3 linked regions of the Homo sapiens genome follow. Each later gene encodes a partner of the first gene's protein in a complex. Each region holds a gene or a part of one and is shown on either strand. Other genes may lie near its edges.

Region 1 (7,019 bases):
AATGGCTGAAGCAACAAATGGATGACTTACTACGAATTTTTAAAACTACCAAATCAATTTAAACTAGATGAGGAGTTAGAACAAGAGCAAGGAGGTAACAATATAATGATAATTCTAAAAATCTACTTCAAGTTTTTCTATTTTAAGATAACTAAACCACTAATATGTCACACACAAAAACAAAACTTAACATTTCCAGACCAATGTATTACATCACTCAACACATTATTAGCTGCAGCAAAAACAAGTAGAGCAAACACTTAGGAGGAGGTGAGGTACAGCTGCTTGGGCAAGCTTAAAAAGACGTTATCATTGGTGAACGAGGAGGAATAAATCTGTCAATGGTAGGCACAGGAACTCAAAACAACAAAGCAATGTGGGGCCGTTGAGTACAGGGGAAAACGATTTTACAATGGGTCAAAGCCCCTAAAGAAATTACCATGCCATAGACAGACGTACTAAAATACAATATAGGAAAAACCAAACTATAATAAGCAAACTACTCTAGGAAAATTAGGAAGTATTAAATACATTTTCAAAATATGTGCCTCAAAAGTAGTTGACGCTTTTAAACTGTGCTTAGAAGTTTCAATTACCAGGAAAATTTACTAAGAAACCACATTCCCTAGAAATGCCAGAGGAAAAAAGTATTTTTGTATATACCATACTTACATTTTCACTAAGAACATTTTACGTTTTACTTGTATTCAAATGCAGGTATTTTTAAAAAACAACTTACCCAGAGGGCAAAAAAATAAAATAAAATAAAATAAAATTACATTAAATCGACAAGCACTTACCTGAACATTTTTTTGGCCAATTTCTTATTTAACACAATTTATTCATCAATATCAGCAATGTTGCTCTGGGCTACCAGTTCATAATAATAGTTTTATTGTAAAACAACTGCTTAGTTAGCACTTACGGGGGAAAAAAAAAAAAATCACTGACCTGAATTCCATGTTAGTGGAAAATAGTAGTCCAAATGAAATACATGCAAAAGATTTCAGAGCAATCCTCAAGCAACAAAGTAAAAATAATAATACTGAGATCTAAAGATATTTGTCAAAGTAACTACAAGATTAAATGATAAATTCTAGTTGTAATAAATGATAGCACTCTCCAAGCTGCTTTAAAACATAATTCCACAACAAAGATAGAAAATGAAAACGTACAATAATTGCACTTACGATGTAGGAAGCAGTCATATTTAAAACATCGCCTACAGAAAAGCGTATGAAAGGAGTGTAAGCTTTGCTCTCTCTGAACAGATTTAGCATTTGGTCCATCTATGTTGGGGGTACATTCAGGAGGAAGTGCGCCTGGGAGCTGCTGTTCGGTGAGTTCTTTATATCTGACATTAACCAAGAAAAATTTAAGTAAACATGAAACAAAAATCACTTTTTTGAAAACAGTTTCTAAAAGGTTTCCATGTGTTACTTTTGATGTTTATCTTGCCTAAAACATAAAGGAATGGCTCTATTTAGATAAAGAGCCAACTAAATATTGTGCATGGTGTTATCAAGAATCAAATTCATCGATATGATTCAAATATATCATGGAAAAGGATATTATATTAGTTTTAACTAAACATCAAATTTCTACCAGTATCCAGATAATTTTCCTGTAAATGTACTACTGTAAATTTTATGTATATGTGTGTGTTTATGTGTATATATAAATTATACATATGTATTTATTCTATCTACAGGAAATATTTTGTAATGCAGAGTACCACAAGTACACATGTTGCTTCAAGTATCTTGCAAACACTGTAAACAAAGTGTAGTGGCTCATCCGCTACATTGATTCCATTTGTAATAAACCAAAATGGTGAGTTACATACCATACAGGGCAAGATTGCCTCAAAGGAACAAATTCTTACTTTTCCTTTAGTTCTTCTGCTGTGCCCTTATCTGGAAACATTGAGGAAATGGCTTCAAAAATTTTATCAGAAGGAAATTTCCGAGGTGGGCGGCTTTCTTTATCTAAACAGGAGAATATGAAAGGAAAAAAAGAATGGAAGTAAACAAGTTTTTGATCTTTCATTTTCTCTACCCAATTATGTCTCTATAACAAAGCTGATTTTCTAAGAAATCATCTCTATTTTGTGTTTTACTTACTTCTCACATACTTTACATGTCTGTGGAATGCCAGTCAGTCAAAAACAAAATTCAAATTCAAATATGAAAAGCTTTAAGAGCACTGGGAAGCAGAAAACCTAGGTTCTACTCCCAGCTCTGCTACTAACTGATTTTGTGACTTAGAGTGATCACTTTACCTCTTGGGTCTGTTTACTCATCTGTAAAATGAAGGAGCTGAACTAGATGATCAATAAGGTCAATAAGGTACCTTTTTGTTATTTTCTCTTTTTTGAAATACGCTTCTTAGAAATTGCTATTTCACCCGCCAAATTATTCTATTCTATGCTGCCTTAGCATGAGCTTTGCCAAGTAGAGAACACCAACTATTGACTCTGTTTCTTCCCAATAGTGTAATCTTATAAGTTACTTAACCTCTCTAAATCTATCCCCTCAAATAGAAAATGGATCTGACAGGTGGGGCGCAGTGGCTCACGCCTGTAATCCTAGCACTTTGGGAGGCCGAGGCAGGTGGATCACGAGGTCAGGAGATAGAGACCATCCTGGCTAACACGGTGAAACCCCGTCTCTACTAAAAAATACAAAAAATTAGCTGGGTGTGGTGGCAGGTGCCTATAGTCCCAGCTACTCGGGAGGCTGAGGCAGGAGAATGGCGTGAACCCAGGAGGCGAAGCTTGCAGTAAGCTGAGATGGGGCCACTGTACTCTAGCCTGGGCGACAGAGCGAGACTCCGTCTCGAAAAAGAAAATGGATCTGATAATAACATCCATCTCATGAAGCCATTATGAGGATTAAGTGAGCTGGTGCATAAGAAGTGATTAGTACACAACTTGTACACGGTGAATATCAATGTTATATATTATAATGATGCCCAGTGAAGCACACAAAAAATTACGTTCTTTGCTAGCCAAAGGAAACAAAGATACTCAAGTGAAGATAATGTTGCAAGTATTATGCTTTTTTTTTTCTTTTTTAAGGCAAGGTCTCACTCTGTCACCCAGCCAGACTGTGCAGTGGCACAATCACAGCTCAATGCAGCCTACACCTCCTGGGCTCAAGCAATCACCCTGTCTCATTTTTTTACTTTTTAGTAGAGATGGGGTCTCACTATGTTGCCCAGGTTGGTCTTGAACTCCTGGGCTCAAGCAATCTGCCCACCTTAGCCTCCCAAGTGCTAGGATTACAGAGTTAGCCACCCTACCTGGCCATAATATGTTAATTTTGATTATACTGCTATCAATGTGATATTTAACAAAGAAAGAAAAAGAGAAAGAAGAAACTAAGCCCTATTTCTACTCTTTCTACTGTTTTTGAAAGAAAGCTGTAATGGCTACACAGAATCCTAATAATCAGGCATACCATCTCGGTGATCCTCCAGATCTTTCTGCTTTTCTTCTCTTTCTTCAGGATCGTCTCCATCATCATCATCGTCATCATCATTATATTGACCAAGGGCATTCACCAACTCCACAAAAATTTCATCATTTATAAACCCACATTCTGAAACGCATCAAATGTCAGAAACACACAGGAGAAGCAATAATGTCAAAAGTTTATGTATCCTTTTTCTACTTGGACAAAACAGGCATAGCCTAGTAACTGGCACTAAAACATTATTATTGAAATGAGGGGAGGAAAAGATAAGATCATTTTCAGGACTGGTGTTAGGCAAAGGAAGCAAACTTATCTTTAATACCTGCTACTTTCTGTAGAATGGCCCCTCCCCAAAACTTTCTAGTAGAAAACTGAATCTTCTAGGAACTGATTGTGGCTTTGGCCTCCTCCCAAACAATGGATCTGTCCTTTAACTGATCATTTCAGACCCTGCTTTCTGCTGATAATGACAATGGATGATGATATTACAAATATTATCCTTTCAGACACTTTAACAGGGCCTCCTGGACACAAAAAACTGAAACCATGACTCTAAGGATTGAATTTCAGGTACTGTAGTCCCTAGAGGAGCGGTATTTTTTAGTAGTAGGGGCTGTTGGAGCCCCTATATGCCACAGAAGCAGAGCCCCAATCCTAATTAATTTTACTACTAAAGAATCTTAAAATCTACATACACTCAAGTTCTATTTAATTTACATGTTATTGCCATTATGTTATAACCAACTATGCATAATTATCAGGTGGCAAACATGATCCTCCTAACTAATTTTCCCAAAAATAGTTAGGGAAAATACTGAAAATCTTAGGCCTGGGCCCAGGTTCAGTCCCTTATAGTTCAGTGCAAAACTTAATTTTAATATTAAAATTTTTCTCATGCCCTATATGCTTCATAAACAAAAGTGTCTCTCAATTCTTTAGCCCCTTTTTCCAAGAGAAGAAGCATATGGCTCACCTCTATCCCCGTGTACTTTCCCATCATAATTTTTTATTAGTTCTTCAATGAAAGTACCATCCTGATCTAAAACTTCATCTCCCATATAAGGAATGTTATGTAAAACAGTTTCATCTTCCACCTAAAAGAAAAAAATATATTTAAAAAGCAGGTTTACTCTAAGTATCAAATGTGAAATAACTAAAATACAACCTTTTTTTCATGTGTACATGTCTTTACCCAGTTCTCCAGATTTAAAATACTAGTCAGAGAGCAAACTCTAAAATTTATCAAAAAATAAAAGACCCCTCTCACCAATAAGCATATCTGAGAAAACTGTTGACAGAAAAAAAATTTAATTCTAGAAAAAATAATGCACTTAGTCTGTCATCAATCATTAAAACTTACCACCATTATTGTACATACCTCTAAGAAAGAAAAAGATGCTCTAGATTATGAGAAGACATCGTCTGTTTTTCTGTTTTTGTTTTTTAATTGAGACGAGTGTCTCACTATGCTGCCCAGGCTGGTCTCGAACTCCTGAGCTCAAGTGATCCACCCGCCTTGGCTCCCAAAGTGCTGGGATAACAGGTGTCTGACACCATGAGCCACCATGCCCAGCCATCATCAGTTTTAACGCGCACTTTAGATGTTAATAGAGGATGATGAAATATGGTGTATCAAGATCAACTATAAAGACCCATACCAAAAAACTACCCTAAGACTCCCAAACTCCACTTGATGATCCAGTTATTAAAACAGCCATTAACTTGTAATAGTTTAAGGTAAAATGAAAAAAAAATGTAAGACATCCAATATAATAAAATTCTAGGGATACAGAGTATTGATAGTCCATTAAAGTTTATGCCAAAAGGATATGTACTTATATGTAAAATAAGAACATTCTACAAAAACATAAAATATTTCAATATTTAGATGAATGAGATGAATATCAAAGTTGACAGTGCTAGTAAAGATGATAGATGAGTTTTTATCAAGCTTTGGAAGACAACAGAGAAGAAAGAAGAATAGCCAATCAAACAAAAGTTAAGACAGAATAGAATAGTTAAGCATACAAGGTAAAGAAAGTTGACATTCATAGGAGGAAGAGCATTTTCAATGAAGAATAAAAATGACAGCAGTTATAGATAAAGACTGGACAGTTCTGAAGTACATGTTTAAAGAGACTAATTCCAAGTGAAGACAAGTCTAAGTCTTAAGAGGCCTTTGAAAAGAGTATTGGTTGAAAACAGAATTTTAGAAAGATAATTATAATAAGCAGAATGGACTGGCTATGCCTGACTGGGAGGACACAGAAGCTCTTTAAAGGGTGAGATGGCGTAGGCTCGGCCCAGCACTATGATCATGGCCCACAGGTAAGAACACGCTGGGAAAGGCCACACACAGGACTAGTAGCAGCCAGGGAATGTGGAAAAAATCTCAAATAATCCCTAGGTAACAAATTTAGGACAACTGGAGAGTTCATAAAGATAACAAGTACCGTAGACAGACAAGGAAAAGAAAAAGTGGGATAAAAGGAGCATATAATTAAAATGCAGGTTTTAATGTATTCATATATTCAAATTCAAGCTTATGTACACACTAGAGGCCTGTTTTCATCTCATTTCACTTGCACTAATCTCATTTAAACTAGGGGTTGATTTCTTTCTATCTAAGCCAAAATCAAGTGACACTTAGATATTTTGTCTTTTCAATCATATCCACATCATCCTGCTCTCCAAAACGTATCTTAGTTACAATAAAGATTGTGTGCCTAATCTGCTTTGGTCAGCAAAATCAGACAGGGTCTGGCTCTGTCACCCAGGCTAGACCAGCAAAATCCATGGGTGATTCATAAATTAATGACAAATTTAAATAATATATTCTTCCAGAATTTCAGTCTGTGAAAACATGAAACTTCCCTCAAGGTCATGCAATGTAATTCTCAAACTACACTCAAATTTATACAACTACAGAAGAGTAACTGAAGTTGAGACTCTACTGTACAAAGTATAAAAGTTACTAAAAACTTCCCCAAAGCAGGTTCACCAAGGACTTCTATCAACATTTTATTAGCCTTCCCACTTTATATATCAATTAAGTAATACAACTATATATTTTTTATTTAGCAATACAAGTCAAGAACACATGCTTCAGTTTCTCTTTAGCATTTTATTACAAAAGCTGCTGCGTCAGAGTTAGCAATGGAACTATGTTTCAGCTCATGTTTCACAAGCCCTATGAATTTTACACCATAATGTACATTATCACAATAAAATGCTACCTAAAGTTGTTTTAAATAATAAGTTCTCAATTAACAAAAACTCAAAGTCAGACTTAGATTACAGGACACTGACTTTTTTAAGGATAAGAACTATAAGCTTCATTCCTTTTGTTTTTTTCAGACAGGGTCTGGCTGTCACCCAAGCTAGAGTACAATGGCACAATCTCAGCTCACTACAACCTCCGCCTCCCTCAAGCCATCCTTCCACCTCAGCCTCCTGAGTAGCTTGGGACTACAGACATGCGCCACACCCAGCTAACTTTTGTTTTGAGGACACAGCGTTTTGCCATATTGCCCAGGTGGATCT
Region 2 (7,668 bases), on another chromosome or scaffold:
AGATCTGTGCATTTCACTGTATATAAGTGAAATAAATACAAACAGAGTTAAAATAATGCCATTCTAATTCCTTCTGTATAAGTCTTATCAACAGGAGATACATGTTAATAGACTTGTCTTAAGAAGGTCTATAAGATCCTCCACGATCTGGCCCCTTACCTTCTTTTCTAGCCTTCTCTGTTACCACACTTTTGTCACCTTCTCTTTTCAGTCCTTCACCAGCACTGACCTTTCAGTGTACCAATGGCGTTTGTACTCTTCTCATATTCCTGCGCCAGGACTTTTGCACATGCTGTTATCACTCCCTAGAATGTTTCTCCTTCTCTTCTTAATGGGAGACTGGTTAACTCCCATTCTTCTTTTAGTTCTACTCTTCTGTCTGTTTCTCAGGGAAACCCTCCCATGTCTCACTTTATTACACACGTCCATGGAAACTTTGTCCAGCTGCTGTGTATGCCTGTGCAGCTTGTTCATCTAAACAAGGGTTCCCAGCTGAGGTGACAACTAAAACTAAAATCAAATTTGTGCTCCACTCACAAAGCCTTGCACACGGAGCAGGGTTGTATCAATCTGGAAAAGGGGGTGCCTTTTCTAATTTACCAAAGTCATTGTTTGCTTGCCAAGCTTTACCTACTCTGGGCTCTTTCTGCTATGGCCTTTTAAAAAATAGCACAAAGATACCATATGGGCTAGCAGCAGCCCTGACCTTGTACTTCCCCTTCATACCACTTACCACGGTAATTTCACATTTATTTGGTTAATGCTTGTTTCTCCTACTTGTCAATAAGCATGATGACAGCAGGAAATTGTCTGGTTTTGCTTATTGTCAAGTTTCCTCAGCACCTGGAACAGTGTTGGGCACACAGTAGGTACTCAGTAAATATATATTAAATCTATTCGTTATTTTTCTTTTTTTTTTTTTTAAGACAGAGTTTCACTCTTGTCACCCAGGCTGGAGTGCAATGGTGTGATCTCAGCTCACTGCAAACCTCAACCTCCCGGTTTCAAGCTATTCTCTCACCTCAGCCTCCCGAGTAGCAGGGATTACAGGCTCCAGCCACCACGTCAGGCTAATTTTTGTATTTTTAGTAGAGACGGGGTTTCGCCATGTTAGCCAGACTAGTCTCGAACTCTTGACCTCAGGTGATCCACCTGCCTCGGCCTCTCAAAGTGCTGGGATTACAGGCATGAACCACCACGCCCGGCCCCATTCGTTATTTCTTAACGCTGGATGAATATTAGGCTGTTTGAAGGTAGAGACTGTGTCTTATTTTCTTTTTTATTGTCCCCTCCTCCCCATTGCCCCTGGAATTATCCTACTGCTTTGCATGTAAATGGCATTCAGTAAATTCTTCCTGATTGATTTGAAAACGTTCAAATAAGCCATATGATGTTCTGTTCATAGAAAACCAGATCTGCAAGCATATGATTACACATTGCATGAATGATGATGAACAGCTGCTATTTATGAAGCAGAAGAGACAAAAATGTTGAATGAATGAGAAATAGACTCCAGTTGAAATGGGAAGGATTTAATTTAGCTTTTGAAACTCATTTCCTGATATGAAGCTTACAAGATACCAGGAGACAATGCCAAGGAACGCTGTGAATTTTCTTTTTCTATATAAGTAAATGATCTTGGAAAGTTCCAAGATGGATCAACCACTTACTTGAAGGCTAAGGGGTATTTCTTACTGAATTCTCAACAGCCAAGTATGAGATAGATATTTTAAAGTAAGTTTTTATTTTGGAATACTTTTACAGAAAATTTACTAAGAACAAAGATAGCATAGAGAGTTCCTGTATTCCCCTCATCCAGTTTCCCTCATTATTAACATCTTACATTACCATGTTACATTGGTCAAAATTAAGTAAAGACTGAAATCCGTACATTACTATAAACTATGCTATAGATTCTTTGTTTGTTTTCCCAGTTGTATCTTCTTTCTGTCCCAAGTGAGATAGCTTTTTAAAGTTCTTTGATACTTTATAAACAATTCTGTGGTCTAAAGACCAAGCTCTGTGCATAGAATTACATAAATTTAGAGCTGCCTGGGTCCCTCATCTTGAGGTAAAAGTGCTTTGGCTTTCCAATCAATTGAACACAATCTCTAGTACTGCCACTTGAACAGCTGTGTGTCTTTGGGCATACTGTTTACTTATCCTAAGTCTTAGTTTCCTCATTTGTAAAATGTGGGTAGTAAGACCTCTCCAACTGTGATGGTTCCTGAGATCTTTCACAGTAGGAGAATGCAGTGTTGAGAAACGTACAAATTTTTCTTTTTTAGAGAAGTAGGTCTCCTTATGCAGCGCAGCCTGGCTTTGATATCCCGGGCTCAAGCAATCTTCCTGCCTTAGTCTCTTGAGTAGCTGGAACTACAGGTACACATCAATGCACTCAGCAAAACTTATTTTTAATAGGTAATTAGACTTTTATGGTTATTAAATTAATACCACAAAAGTAGTACTCTGCATGGAACACCTATGACATTTTACATATCTTAAATTAGTAACAAAGACTCTCCTCTGAGCCCTCTTCTCCATCTTCCTGTCTAGCTTGCCTGGCTCAGCTGTAGCAAGAATTCTGCATCAGTTTAGAGAAAAACCCATACCCTGGATATCTGATCACCCCGGCCTTTTTTAGCACAAATTCTGTTAAGTTGGTGTAGCAAAAGTTTCCCCATTCTTGATGTCTCTTCTTAGTAATTTTCCAACCACCAACCCCTCCAACTTTGCTCCTTGACTATACATCCCCACTCCTTGCTGTAATTTGGAGTTGAGCCTGATCTCTCTCCTATTGTGATAGTCTTGACAGCTATCAAAATAGTCCTGAATTAAGTGTTCCTTACTATTTTAACAAGTGTCAGAATATTTTTCCTTTAATGTAGTGACAATAACGTAGTAATATAAACTAATTTCCATTTATCACCCCTGATTCATCAGAAACATTTTAAAAATAACCCCTTCAAGTTTTAATAAGCCTCTTTAAACTATTTTTGCTTTGTTACAGATAATATGAATGCTGTAAGGCATTTTTCTACCATATGTGTCCTTTATCCAAATGTTCAGCACTTTTCTAATTTTATGACTAGACGTTGACTCCCACTTCCCAGCTCCCACTAATCTCTCACACACGGAGTAATTTTAATTTGAAATGCTTTAGTCAATTATCCTTTACTTGTAGAACTATATTTCAGAAACGTCCTTCCCTTTGTTGGGAAAGATGTTCTTAACAAAGGGAAGGATGTTTCTGTCTGCTGATGAAAATGTCATGCCAAAGCACGTCTTACTTTGTCAGGAGCTTACTCTACTCCAGTCTCATCTCTTCTCACCAACTGAGGAGTGCTTAGTAGTGCCTGGAACATTGGAAGTACTGAACAAATGACTGCCGTCATTGAGACCTCAACTTTAATTTTTTTTCGGCTTCTTTATTTCAAAGTCTTCACTGCAGAAACCTCTCATTCTGACCTGCCTTTGCTTTACTTCCTTTTCTCATTCTCAACCAAGAGTTCTCTCTTTATCTACAAAAGAAAGAGTGACTTGCAATCTGCAGATAAGGAAACTGATGTCCTGGTTATAAAGTTATCATGCAGAAATAATTCAAGTATACTAGAATTTTATGGATGGTGCACTCTAGGTGGGTAATGAGGTCTAGAAGAGAAAAGATATACAACATCAAGCAGGTGCCCAAGAAATGGTAGGTCCCTTTCTCCCTTCCTGCCTCCTCATTTTTACAGATGAGGACATTTTTACAGAAGCCCGAATAGATAAGTAGTCACAATCATGTTCTAAGAAAAACAAAAAAAAGGTGGCGGATGCCGTATTTTATTTTTCGTCATCACTCTCCTTTTCCTGCTGCTCATTCAGTTATGGTTTCATGACCCATATAATAATTCCACAAGGCTCACCAATGTTATCTGGCACCTGCTAGAGAATAGATATAGTAACAGAGGCAAATATTTTGGTGAAGTTTAACAGTTGTGTTGCCTTCTAGAATTTCATTGTATCTGATGTGCAAAAACAAGCAAAACATTGTCGGTTAAGTATCACAATCTCATAATGGAGATGAGCACTGATTCTTAGGCCTTGGCGTAGTTCAGGGCCTATCCTTTAGCAGCTAAAAAGAGCACTTTGGCTGTAACTCATTGGAGTCTAGTCTCATAATGTTAGGATATTTCTATTTAAGTCTTAACCACTATTGGTAGCAACTGGAAGGATAATCATTCATTACAATAAATAGTCAACAGAATAAATATCCGACAAGAATTTACGAAGCGTCTAGAGTATAATTCGGTAGCGCTTTGAAATCCACCCTGGGATTCGGAAACCGGGTAGAAAACTACCTGGTTCAGCAAACGAGAATTCAAACAGAGGAGGGGCTTGGAGGAGGCGGGTTTCGACGAACCCAGCGCAAGAGTACGCCACGGCGCCTGCGCATCCCCTGACGGGTACTTTCCATTCGCCAGATGGGGGAAGCCAGGGGGAAGCAGGTTACTGTTTTTGCATTTCTATCTTCAAGGAAGAATTAGGTTATGAATAGTTCCGTGAATAGTCAGGAAGCGCTGTCCTCCAAGTTCAAGATTAAGGAAACGTGGCATGCACAGCTAAAGCAAGAGGTGACGTCTTGTATCTTCCCCCGTTTCCTGGGACATTGGTGGTGTAGCCCATTCCACAGACTTTCGCTCCCTAGCAGCGGGTCGGAGATCGAAGGAACGGGCCAATTGCGGCTGAAACGTCTTTGGAAGGAGGAAGGGGGTGAGGGAGCATCCCTTTGAGTTTCGCCTCTTCTCGAGGCGGTGGTGGGAAGGGAGACATACTTAATACTGCCCTCTTAATCCAACGGACCTTACATCGTGTAGACTGCCGGGAGGGCGGCGGGAAAAGGGCAAGACGGGAGTTGGGGAAGGGAAGGAGCCAGGAAGCCGCGCGGGAGGGCGCGCGCGCGCGCCCCTTTTTCAGCAGTGTGGCGGGGTCGCACGCACGCCCGCCTCGGCGGCTGGGCGCGATTTGCGACAGTGGGGGGGGCGGTGGAGGTGGCGGCGGCAGCGGCAACTTTGCGGCAAGCTCGGGCCGGGCTTGCTTGACGGCGGTGTGGCGGAGGCCCCGCCCCAGGCGGCAGGAACCTGGAGGGAGGCGGAGGAATATGTCCGAGAGGGAAGTGTCGACTGCGCCGGCGGGAACAGACATGCCTGCGGCCAAGAAGCAGAAGCTGAGCAGTGACGAGAACAGCAATCCAGACCTCTCTGGAGACGAGAATGTAAGTGCAGCTTCTGGCAGTTACGAGACTGCGGAGTGAAAGTTTTAAATTCTTTTAAAACGGGGGGCGCGGGGACGAGCGGGCTGCTGTGGGGGGAGGGAGAGGTGTCACTCAGGAAAACGCGGGCGTGCGGGAGAAAATTGAAATTGCCTACGGGGATTTTGATGTGGGGCCGAGAGCAAGCAGGAACTAGGCAAAGGAGAGTGGTTCTAGTGATTGCGTGGGTCTGAGAAGTCTGCCCTGAAATCAGTTTGCATGTGATGGGGAGTGTTTTGGCCTTTGGGGGGATTTAAGGGGAGAGTGCGGGTCTGAGATTCTAGTAGTTTAAAAGGCACGTTAGAGACTTTTCTAAGAAAGTTGGAAGGACGGGGCAGAGTTAGGGACCCTGTTAAAGGAGCGTAAGGGTTGTCACTCTAAGACCCTTGTGGAATTTTCAGGATGGAAAGTGATCTTCGATTTGCGGAGTTTGGGAGACTTTATTAAAGGGGGTTTTGTGTCCGCCTCCGTCCTGTCCGCGGAGACCGGGTGCGCCTGAAGGTCGCCTTTTCTGTAGGAGGAGCCGAATTGAGAGGATCGATTTTTGATTTGGGGGTGGGGAGTGACTACCTTTGAGGAAGTAAGAGTGGGTGATTTCTTCTTTGAACGTTTTTACTTAAGATAAAGGTGAGGGGGGTGGCGACCTGGAAGATTTTGGGCAACAGTGGTATAGGCAGATGTATTTAAGTGTGGGTTCCTGGCTTCGCCAAGTGCGCGATGTTTTGCAATCAGATTTTTTTAAGCTCTGAAATGGGTATTCGTAATCATTCGGTACCAACATTTAACCCAACTGAGTTTTAATTGACTCGCCAGTAAGAGCCGAATTGACATAAATAAGTTTTCAGTTTCATGTTTTAGGTTGATAACCAGTAAGGTCAACGAAGTATCTTGACAATTTATTCAAAGATACTACTCCAAAATGTGATTCTCCTTCTCATGATATATAACAACTTGTGAATATCTTTTAAAAAATCCTTAAAATGTTTCAGAAGAGTGGCGTAAGTTCTTCATTTTCTCAGTTTGGCTAGTTTTAGGAATAAATGTTACATCTTCTACACGCAGTTTCTAAATTCTGTCATAATTCCTAGCTGAAACATATAATGATGTCATGACTAAGATTTTCACGGAAAAGATGGGAAAGGATTCTTTTTGCAGAGACAAGATAGATATTCTTGGGATTGTCAGTTTGTGGGATCTTAGACTTCAAATTTCAGAAAAGCTTGGGTGTTAAGTGTTACTTTTGTATTTTTCACCCGATTGTGCGCCCCAATCTCACTGTACATTGGGATCTAACATTTTTTACCCTCTTCTTTTTATTATTTGAAGACCGTTCATTTTATTTCTGCGTTTTCTTAAATTTCTCTAGGCAGATTAGAGTATTAAGAGCACAGATGCTGGATCCAAGTGATAGGTTAAAATTTCTGTTCTATTAGCTTGACCTCGAGCAAGAGACTGACATAATTGTCTTAGTTTCTTAAAAATGAGGATGGTGGTGTATGGTATTTACCTCATAGAGTATTTGTAAGCATTAAATGAGTTAATATAGCTAAAGTACTAAGAAGAGTGTCTGCCCCATAGTAAGTACTATACACATGTTATTTATTTATAATAATTACTACTACTAATTTTATGATTACATAGAATAATGTTTCTGGCTCTTCCACATACTTAATAATCAGGCAAAATATAATGAAACTGTCAGACCTGTTTAGAATGAAGAAACTTGCAAAGGACAAAATAAAGCTTATTTTCTTCTTGCAGACCCTTACAGGAAAACATATTCTTTGCTGCAATTTTAAAGCTGTTCAAGACCAAATGATTGGATTAGTTTTGTTTTGGTTCCTCCATTTGGATAGCCTTAATTTTGTGTGTGTGCGTGCGCATGCCTTGGAAGCCTTAATCTTGTAGAGTCTTCTCAAAATAACATTTTTAGATGTATGAAATACAGGATATGAGGTTACAAACAAATTCAATTATAAAATTGTACACCATGTTATAAAATATTTCTAAAACAAATTTTAGATGTAGTCCTATACTATATGTACTTTATTAGCACATTAAGTAACAAGATCTAGCAGCGGGTCTGATAGTAGTGATGGGTATAAACACTTTTTCGAAGTGTAATATAAAAATACTTGATTTCCATTGGTGGCAGAGTCACAACTTCAGTAACATTAAGCATGTGTTACCTAGATAATAATAGAAGGAAGTGCTAAATTTTAAAGGTGGCAAAAATTAAGATGCAATTTTTTTTCCCCATTTGAGTTCACAAGCCTTCTGAATTTCATCCATGTACCCCTGACTTAGGGGCAGTAGTAAGGTAAGGGAGTAGAGAACATTGTATAAAAATGAGTTTAGAAAAGATAAGGGCAATA
Region 3 (7,800 bases), on another chromosome or scaffold:
TTCCTGCAGAAAGGAGGCGCCTCCTCCCCGCTCCCCGCTTCCCAAGTGGCATCAGAACAGGGTCCAGTGGCACTCCTTTGGGGACCTACGGCTCCCCGGCCCTCACCTGGTGGGAAGCGCGACGCTCCGGAGCGGAAGGCAGAGGCCGAGCGCATCTTCCTCCTCTTCCTCCTCCCACGCCGCAGCCCGGCTCTGCGGCAGCCCCCGCCCCCGCCCAGCTCCCTCCTCCCCCCGCCGCCCCGCCGCGCCTGGAGCCTCCCGCCCGACTTTTGACGTCACGGAGGAGGAGGGGAAGGTTCCACCCGAGCCCGTCCCTTTGTGACGTCACAATGACAACAGAGTGCGGCCGGGAGCGTCGGGGAACCGAGCGCCGCGGGGGGCGGAGGGAGGGAAGAAGGGCTGGGGCGCCGGCGCGCGGCGGGGGAAGAACCGGGGGGCGGAGAGGGGGCGCGCTGACGTCTCGCCGGCTTAACCTGTTGCTCTCGAGACTGCGTCGGAGCCCGCAGGCAGGGCCGCGGGAAGCCGGCCGGGCCGCCGCCGCCATGCTCGGCCGTGTGCGCGGTGGGGGGCGCCCGCTGCAGCTGTGCGCCGCGCGCCCCCTCCCCGGCACGCCCACGCCCCCGCCCCCGCTCCCACCCCCTCCCCGCGCGCTCTCCCCTCCCCGCGCCCCGCAGGCCGCGCCACCCCCGCGCCCCACCCGCCCTCCTGCCCGCCTGCAAGCCGGCCCGGGTAGACCGGTGCCCGCCTCGCGCGCCCGCCTAGAGCCCGGAGTATGCCCCCTATAGGCCGCGCGCGCGCGCCCGCCCGCCCAGCCCCGGCCCAGCCTGCCGCGACCCCCGCGGGCCGTCCCTTTCGCAGCCGGCTCGAGGACGTCGGGAACACCGGCTCTGCTCCCGGTGCATTAACTCGTGCCGTGCCTCCCGCAGCCGCCGCCAGCCACGGGCTTGCAGCCGGACGCCCGGACTCGGAGACACGATCCGCTGAACGCCCGCAATAAGAAAGAAAACCCACCCCACGCTGCTCTCCACCTCAACGAGGTCCGGAATGGGAGGCGGGGTGCGGTTCTCGTCCAAGTTCTACCCCATTTGCTTTGTGGCTGCATCCGAAACGGACGTGCCCCGGGAAGGCGTCCACGCTCCAAGACAAGGTTGCCTCAGTGCAGTTTCTACAGCCCGAGTTTAAACTAGTCCTTTGCATTCTACCCAGCCCTCTGCAATGCGGATGTATTTTAATTCTTAAATTCTTTATGGAACAGCTTTCTAAGTTGGGCTTGATTATTTAACCTTGCATTTCTTTCATAGTTGAAGTTGACGTGTCTAGATAAGGATCAGCTCTCTTGAAGAGGCATTCAGCTTTTCCATTAAATATATTTTTTTACAAAACCAGTGCCCCGAAGGTCATCTCTCATTACACACACCACAATGATCAAAAAGGGAAAATATTAACACCAATTTGTCTACCCAACTTAAATAAACTTTCCTCTTACGTTGCATTATTCCTAAGGTATGTTCATTTGGCCTTTTTTGAAAAAAAAAAAGAGTTATTTAATTTAAAGCATGCAGCTAATCACAGATCACTCGAGTGCATATTTGGTTAATCCCTCGGTCCCCCTTTCCTCCCTCCCCTCAAACTTAAAAAAAAAAAAAAGCCACCACACACAAAACAAAAACACTCCCCATGCCAATCAAAACGTAGCTGTACTATGCACAAAACAAATTTAACTATTCCAAGCCATTTAAATCTAGGAATAATCACCCAATTTCAGAAGCCCAGTTAACAGGGAGAAATTATTTGTAGTTACTTACATATGCATTCACGTACACACTTAAAAACATTAGCCATAGTGTGTGTCCTTTTCCCCTACAACTGGAAACCATGAATTTTTTAAACAAAACCAGCCTCATTATTAAAGTCAATCCCAACAAATGCATTCGCTGTAACATGATTCCCAACTGGTTTATGTTGCAAACCAGATAAGCCAAAACGACCACAGACATTAAATTTGATGTGCCAGTGCAAAGAGAAGATCGCCATAATCGGACCCTCGATCGCAACTTAAAGGGCTTCCAACACACATGCGTTACACGATTTTTCCAAATAACATTAATAATAATAACACAGGCTCATTTGCATGCAAAGTGCAATACGGGGCCAAATCCGCTTGAGAATGCAGTTTAGTTACATTACCGCAGCCACCCCCCACCTCAAGCTCCACCAAAATCCCTTGCCTTTCATCTAAAAGTAGATTATGGTTGTGTCATTCGAGGTCAATTTATTCACTTGAGGTATCTCTACACCAGTCTGTTTTTTCAACCAAACTAGGCAGACACCACTTTGCTTGAAAAGCCCTCTTTCAGAAAAAAAAGAAACAGCCTTATCGGACGCTGTGTTTAAAACCCTTCAGAGGCAGAATTATCTATAAACTTGACATTCACAGCCATTGCTTAAAACTGCAAGTCAAAGGATGTGTTGTTAGGAGCACTTACGTATTTCTTCTGAATGATATTCCTCTTGGGTCTTTCCTTGCTCATTCTGAGATCCAAATGCTGATTGCAAAAGGGGACAATTGCTTCATGAATTTAAAGCCGTCAGAAATTTGCAAAAAAATATCCTGGTGGTTTTTATTGTTGTTGGTGGTGGTTGATCTTGTAATCCGACTTTTCTTCCTCTTCCCCCAAAGCCAGATTCGCCTTGAAATAAATCCGAAATTGGGAAGGAAAAAAAAAGAGCCAAAGACGAACGAAGCAAACAAAAAAAAATTCACTTTAGTAAAACACTCATAATGGAAAATTTCCCCCGAAACACATACACACACACACAAAAAAAAACCGACGCCCTTCACTCCCCCCCCTTTTTCCTCCAAAAACTACATCAGCGAAACGTGAAGGTCCTTAGTGTCTGATCCGTAGTTACATCTTGGAAAAGAAAAGGGAAAGATAAATAAAAAATGTTGGAAGTCACGTTTGTGCTGCAGCAGCAGTGCGAGCAGAAGAGTCAACTCCAGCGGCGGCGGCGGCGGCGGCGGCAGCACCACAGCGAGGGCTCGCCGAGTCTCTTTTTTCCAAGCCCCCTAACCAATGAGAGAGAGGCTATCCAGCCCAACTTTAAATGGACTCTGCTTTTATACAAGTTAGGGCTCCTCGGATAATTCCCCGCCGGGCGCCAGCCGAAAACTCCCACCGCTCAGCCGCCAGGCGCCCGCTTAGCCTGGTGCCGACCGCCCCTGGCCCAGTCCAGGGCACCCCCGCAGCCTGGCCAACCAGACACCCGAGCGACCTCGACGAACCCCTCCCAGGCAAGCCCTCGGGCGTCGCTCCCACGCCGAGCCCAGGCGTGGAATTGAGAGAGGCTCCCTAGCTCAATGCATGGCACGCTCCGTCGCTCCACCTCACCCCCTTTCCCCTGCCTGCCGCTCACCCCACGGCCGCCCCACGCCAGCCCCCGCCACTGCCTTCGCGTCTACCTGCAGCCGGGCTGCTGGGTAGGAGTGCCCCAGGACGCCCGGCCCCGGGGAGAGCCGCCTATTCCCGGGGCACCTTAGAATGGTCCCCTTGATCTTCTGGAAGTTGTAGTCCCCCGACTACAAAATGGCTATGGCCACGGAAGCTGGGAACTACAATTCCCAGCCTGCCCCGCAAAGCCTGTCACTCAACTCCCCTCCCTCCTCCTCGCCCCCTCCCCCTCACTGGCCGTGCCAACAAACGCTTGGACGTGTCCCGCGTGCGACACTGCTAGAGGCTGGCTCGGGATTGGCCCGCGGAGCGTGTGGTCCGCGAGCGAGGAACTCCCCACGCCGGCCCTCCTCCGCCCCCCGGGCCCCGGCCCCCCTCCCCTGGCGGCCGCCAGCCCCCTCCCCGCGCGCCCCGCCCCCACCCGCGGCGCGAACCGCCTGTGGAATCGAGGAATCGCGCGCGTGCGGCCCGGAGCCGCGGGGGAGGGACGCGAGGCTTCCCCGGGGAAGGCCTCGGAGCGTGGCGGTGAGGGGGGCGGTGTCAGGGAGGGGTTGGAGCCCGTCCTAAGGAAAACTGGGCCACGCACCAAGAGGAATCCTCGGTGCGAACTAGTTGATCGGCGGCGCCTGCTGCTTGTGCCGTGCAGCCGGTGTCACCTCAGGACAGCGCCTCGCGTCTGTGTACAGAGCGTGCTGCGGGCGCCTAGGGTAGTCCGAGGTCACCCCTCTCCGCGCCCCGCAGTCGCGCACGCCCCCACGCGCGGGGTGGGCGGTGGCCGGGGGTCGCCGAGTGGAAAGGCCACGCCCCCCCACGCCCGGGCTCGGCACGCTGCCCCTGGGTCGCGAACGCGCCTCCGCTCGACCCGCTTGGAGGACGTCGCTGGTGGCCCAGGAGTGAAGCCCCGGCGGCTGCCTCCTGAGAAAAGATAGCCGTGTTTAAAGAGACTGAACGGGATCTTTGCTTTGCCGGGCGTATTTTGTGATAAAATACCACAAAATGTTGAGACAAAAATGAGTGGAATATGGAGACCGAGCCGCACAGACACGCAATTGTAAGGAAACATCTCGAACACCGAGTGCCAGGAATATCAACTGTCCGGGCCACGCAAGAGCCTGCTTTTTACCTGCCTCCAGCCCCCTGTCGTGCTGGTTTAATCGCTGAAACAAATGAAGTAGCAGGCCCTGGCATAGCGCTTTGGGCCTTCGCCTTATTAACAACTTTGTCAAGTCTCGCATCGCGATTCTGCCTTGTTAATTTCCTTGTTTTTCGCTGTGGTTTTGGAGAAGCAATGTTTTCCATGATCTCTCAGGCTAGCCTCGGAATAAAACGTGGCAGAAGCGCTCCCGCGAACACATACCCATATATTTTATTCTACCTATTCCCTAGAGTCTGCTAACTTCAAAAGTCTAGATACTCACACAGCTGTTTACTTGCAGCAGTATTTGAAGAGATAACCTTGGTGTCTAGAAAGGTCTCAGAAACTGGAGGTAAGAGACCTGGATTCAAATCGCGCCTTGGCCACTTCCCAAAAGGCAACCGAGAGCCTCTCTGAGCTTGTCAGTTTCCGCATCTGCAAATTAGTGGTGATCAAACCTGTGGGGATGATTATGTGATAAATAACAGTAACCTAGTTTAAAACTAGGCACGTTATTGGAAGCTTTCAGTAAACGAAATAAAAAGCCTTTTCGAGAGGGTATTTTCCTTATTATTTTTACCTTTTCAAAAAATCTGAAATGAAATAATTTTATCTAATGTTCACTTCACAATTGGAAAAATAAATGATCTTTTGTGCCCTGAATACTGCAAAACTTGTACGCTGGTGCCATTTCCTGGGAAGGATCCAATGGGGCAGACTACAGTAGGGCCACCCAAGGTGTTTTCTAAAAACTTTCTGATCATTAGGACTGGCATACTGGGAATCTCCACGTCTCCACGTTGTTAAGATTTTAACCAGCTTTCTGTAAGTTTAACGCAGATACCTCATTCCCTAGGCAAATATTAATGAACAAAGGTGAGTTTCTTTTCTGTTCCCCTAACTAGCCCTGGGGCCTGGACTTCTCAGTCCTGGGCTTGCGAACTCCCCTGCCAGGCTACCAGCTCCAGGTCACCTGGTGTGAAAAACTATTGTGTAAAGTTGAGGCCTCAGGGCAGAGGGGAAAGGAAGGAATTTGCTCATTTCCAAAAGATTTGAATAATATTAGTGTTGTTTTCCCTGAAAGAGAAAAAAGGTTGGCCTTCTTAGTGGTTGAAAGATTTTCCTGTTGTGAAAGTAACCTACTCCTAATGAACTTCCTTCCCCTACCATCTTGGCAAGACCATCCAAGGCTTTTCTTGCTCCTTCCTCCTCTTTTTCATTTTCTGTAAGTCAAATGCAGCTTTTCTTATGATGATTTTCACATCTCAAAGCCTTGACCTCTTCAATTGGAGGGGCAGGGATGAGAACATGTCTAGGTACATTGATTGTATTAGACTCTATGCCAGCACTGTCCTCATCCCTGAGGACACAGGAAGCTCACAGCTCAGTAAAAAAAAAAAAAAAAAAAAGGCAGAGTTTACAATGGATTGTGATACCTCCAAAAAGTACTATATCAGCAATGTAGAAAAGAAGCTAAAAAGAACACATTGCTGAGATGACTAGGTGTTAAGGAGTTTTGAAGTAGGTGTAGGGGTTCACATACATACTTAAAGAAGTGCATATTTCACCCCTTTGCATTGCATCCTATTTGTTTACATTCTCCACTTTTAATGTTTCTAGTTCTTCTCTCCAAGTAAAAAGGAAATTCCCTAAAGAGATGATGTTGTCTACTTCTCATACCCTCCAAAGCTCCAAAAACTTCATCAAATTTGAAAGATGTCCAGTAAATGCTTACTGTTGAATATTTCACCAAAACTATAATGCCCAACTATTTAGACTATTGCCCAACATTTAGTCTCCTACCATCATCTTCCATTCCATTCTGGAACTCTGCTAGTTTTCCTCTTGCATTATCTAAATCCAATGTAGTGTTATACGTTCTTCAAGGCCCCAAATTCAGGCCCATTTCCAATCCAGCCTCGCTGCTTGGCCTACTCATTCCTGGATTCTCATTGCCCTTCCTATTTTGGCAATAATTTTTGAGCTTTAAAATTTTATTCTGAGGCCGAATGTGGTGACTCACATCTGTAATCCCAGCACTTTGGAAGGCCGAGGCAAAAGGATCACTTGAGCTCTGGAGTTTGAGACCAGCCTGGGTAACATGGTGAAACCCTATCTCTACCAAAAAAAAAAAAAAAATTAGCTGGACGTGGTGGCCCAGGCATGGTAGTGTGCACCTGTAGTCCCAGTTACTTGGGAGGCTTAGGTGGGAGGATGGCTTGAGCGGGAGGCTGAGGTTGCAGTGAGCTGACATTGCACCATTACACTCCAACCTGGGTGACAGAGAAAGACCCTGTCAAAAACAAACAAAAAAAAATTGTTCTCTGTTGTATTTTTTTCTGATTATGTCATGTAAGTATCTTGTATCTCTTAATTGAAAATTGGATGGGGCCATGATTTGTCTCATATTGAGGCAGCCATTGGCAATGAGGGAATCAGATGTTTCTAATATTAAGTCTCTGAGTGACCATATGCCATTCACCTGCCTCATATAGGCCTTGGGTCTGTCATTTATAAAATGAGCAGGTTAGGCTGGGTGTGGTGGTTCACACCTCTAATCCTAGCACTTTGGAAAGCCAAAGCGGAAGGATTGCTTGAGCCCAAGAGCTCAAGACCAGCCTGGGTAACATAGCCAGACACCATCTCTACAAACATAAAATTAAAAATTAGAGGGTTAAATTCAGTTATTTCCCAAAGACATTTCTACACCCAACATTCTCTAGTCCTACCTTTACCTTTGTATTATGCTGCTTTTCCCCCTCAGTGCTGGCCCCTAAGTAAACTCAAATCCACAATCATTCAGTAAAAGTTGCTAGGTTAAGTTTCTTTACACTTGTATGTTATTAATTTCCAAAAAGACCTCATATTTATCCGAGCTATCTAATGATAGCTTTCATTTGTATAACTTTAATAGTGTTTAAAGCACACTGTCATAATAATTTCATTTAAACCATAAAACAACTTAGATCAAGACAGGTATTACTGTCCTCACTCTTCAAATGTGAAAATGAAATATTAAGAGGTTGTGATTTGCTCAAAGTCATACAACCAGTTGAGTGGATGAGCCAAGGGTCAAACTCAGGACTCTCGGCTCCACATACCCAGTGCAGGCCACCTCCCTGGTTTTCCAAAATGGGATTCAAGACATATGATTCCATGAAATGTTACTAGGTGGGACTGAAAAGAAAATAATTCTTCGATGAAATAAATTTG

Evidence for each region.
Region 2: the proteins of EZH2 (region 1) and EED are in contact, whole or in part, in a cryo-EM structure (PDB 8VMI), measured with the Homo sapiens proteins. Residues at the interface, in NP_001190176.1 of Homo sapiens: Arg34, Glu37, Val38, Lys39, Met41, Phe42, Ser43, Asn45, Arg46, Ile49, Arg52, Thr53, Ile55, Leu56, Asn57, Glu59, Trp60, Lys61, Arg63, Arg64, Ile65, Gln66, Pro67, Val68, His69, Ile70, Leu71, Glu82, Cys83, Ser84; in NP_003788.2 of Homo sapiens: Val85, Asn86, Ser87, Leu88, Lys89, Glu90, Asp91, Trp103, His104, Ser105, Lys106, Glu107, Asp109, Pro110, Val112, Arg120, Thr122, Leu123, Tyr124, Glu125, Gln129, Gly130, Glu131, Ile132, Arg133, Leu134, Leu135, Gln136, Ser137, Tyr138.
Region 3: the proteins of EZH2 (region 1) and JARID2 are in contact, whole or in part, in a cryo-EM structure (PDB 8VNZ), measured with the Homo sapiens proteins. Residues at the interface, in NP_001190176.1 of Homo sapiens: Arg78, Ile131, Pro132, Tyr133, Asp136, Ile146, Lys156, Val157, Asp160, Arg161; in NP_004964.2 of Homo sapiens: Arg108, Pro109, Arg110, Leu111, Ala113, Gln114, Arg115, Lys116, Thr154.

The regions. Positions count from the first base shown.
Region 1 is NC_000007.14:148,825,279-148,832,297, forward strand, and holds part of EZH2 (histone-lysine N-methyltransferase EZH2), read right to left. Parts: intron 4,571-7,019; coding exon 4,450-4,570; intron 3,603-4,449; coding exon 3,462-3,602; intron 1,989-3,461; coding exon 1,886-1,988; intron 1,355-1,885; coding exon 1,176-1,354; intron 1-1,175. UniProt on the Homo sapiens protein: Polycomb group (PcG) protein. Catalytic subunit of the PRC2/EED-EZH2 complex, which methylates 'Lys-9' (H3K9me) and 'Lys-27' (H3K27me) of histone H3, leading to transcriptional repression of the affected target gene.
Region 2 is NC_000011.10:86,240,087-86,247,754, forward strand, and holds the start of EED (polycomb protein EED), read left to right. Parts: upstream 1-4,666; 5' UTR 4,667-5,143; coding exon 5,144-5,257; intron 5,258-7,668. UniProt on the Homo sapiens protein: Polycomb group (PcG) protein. Component of the PRC2/EED-EZH2 complex, which methylates 'Lys-9' and 'Lys-27' of histone H3, leading to transcriptional repression of the affected target gene.
Region 3 is NC_000006.12:15,241,271-15,249,070, reverse strand, and holds the start of JARID2 (protein Jumonji), read right to left. Parts: upstream 3,003-7,800; 5' UTR 2,532-3,002; coding exon 2,487-2,531; intron 1,257-2,486; exon of another isoform or gene 927-1,256; intron 562-926; exon of another isoform or gene 375-561; intron 217-374; exon of another isoform or gene 107-216; intron 1-106.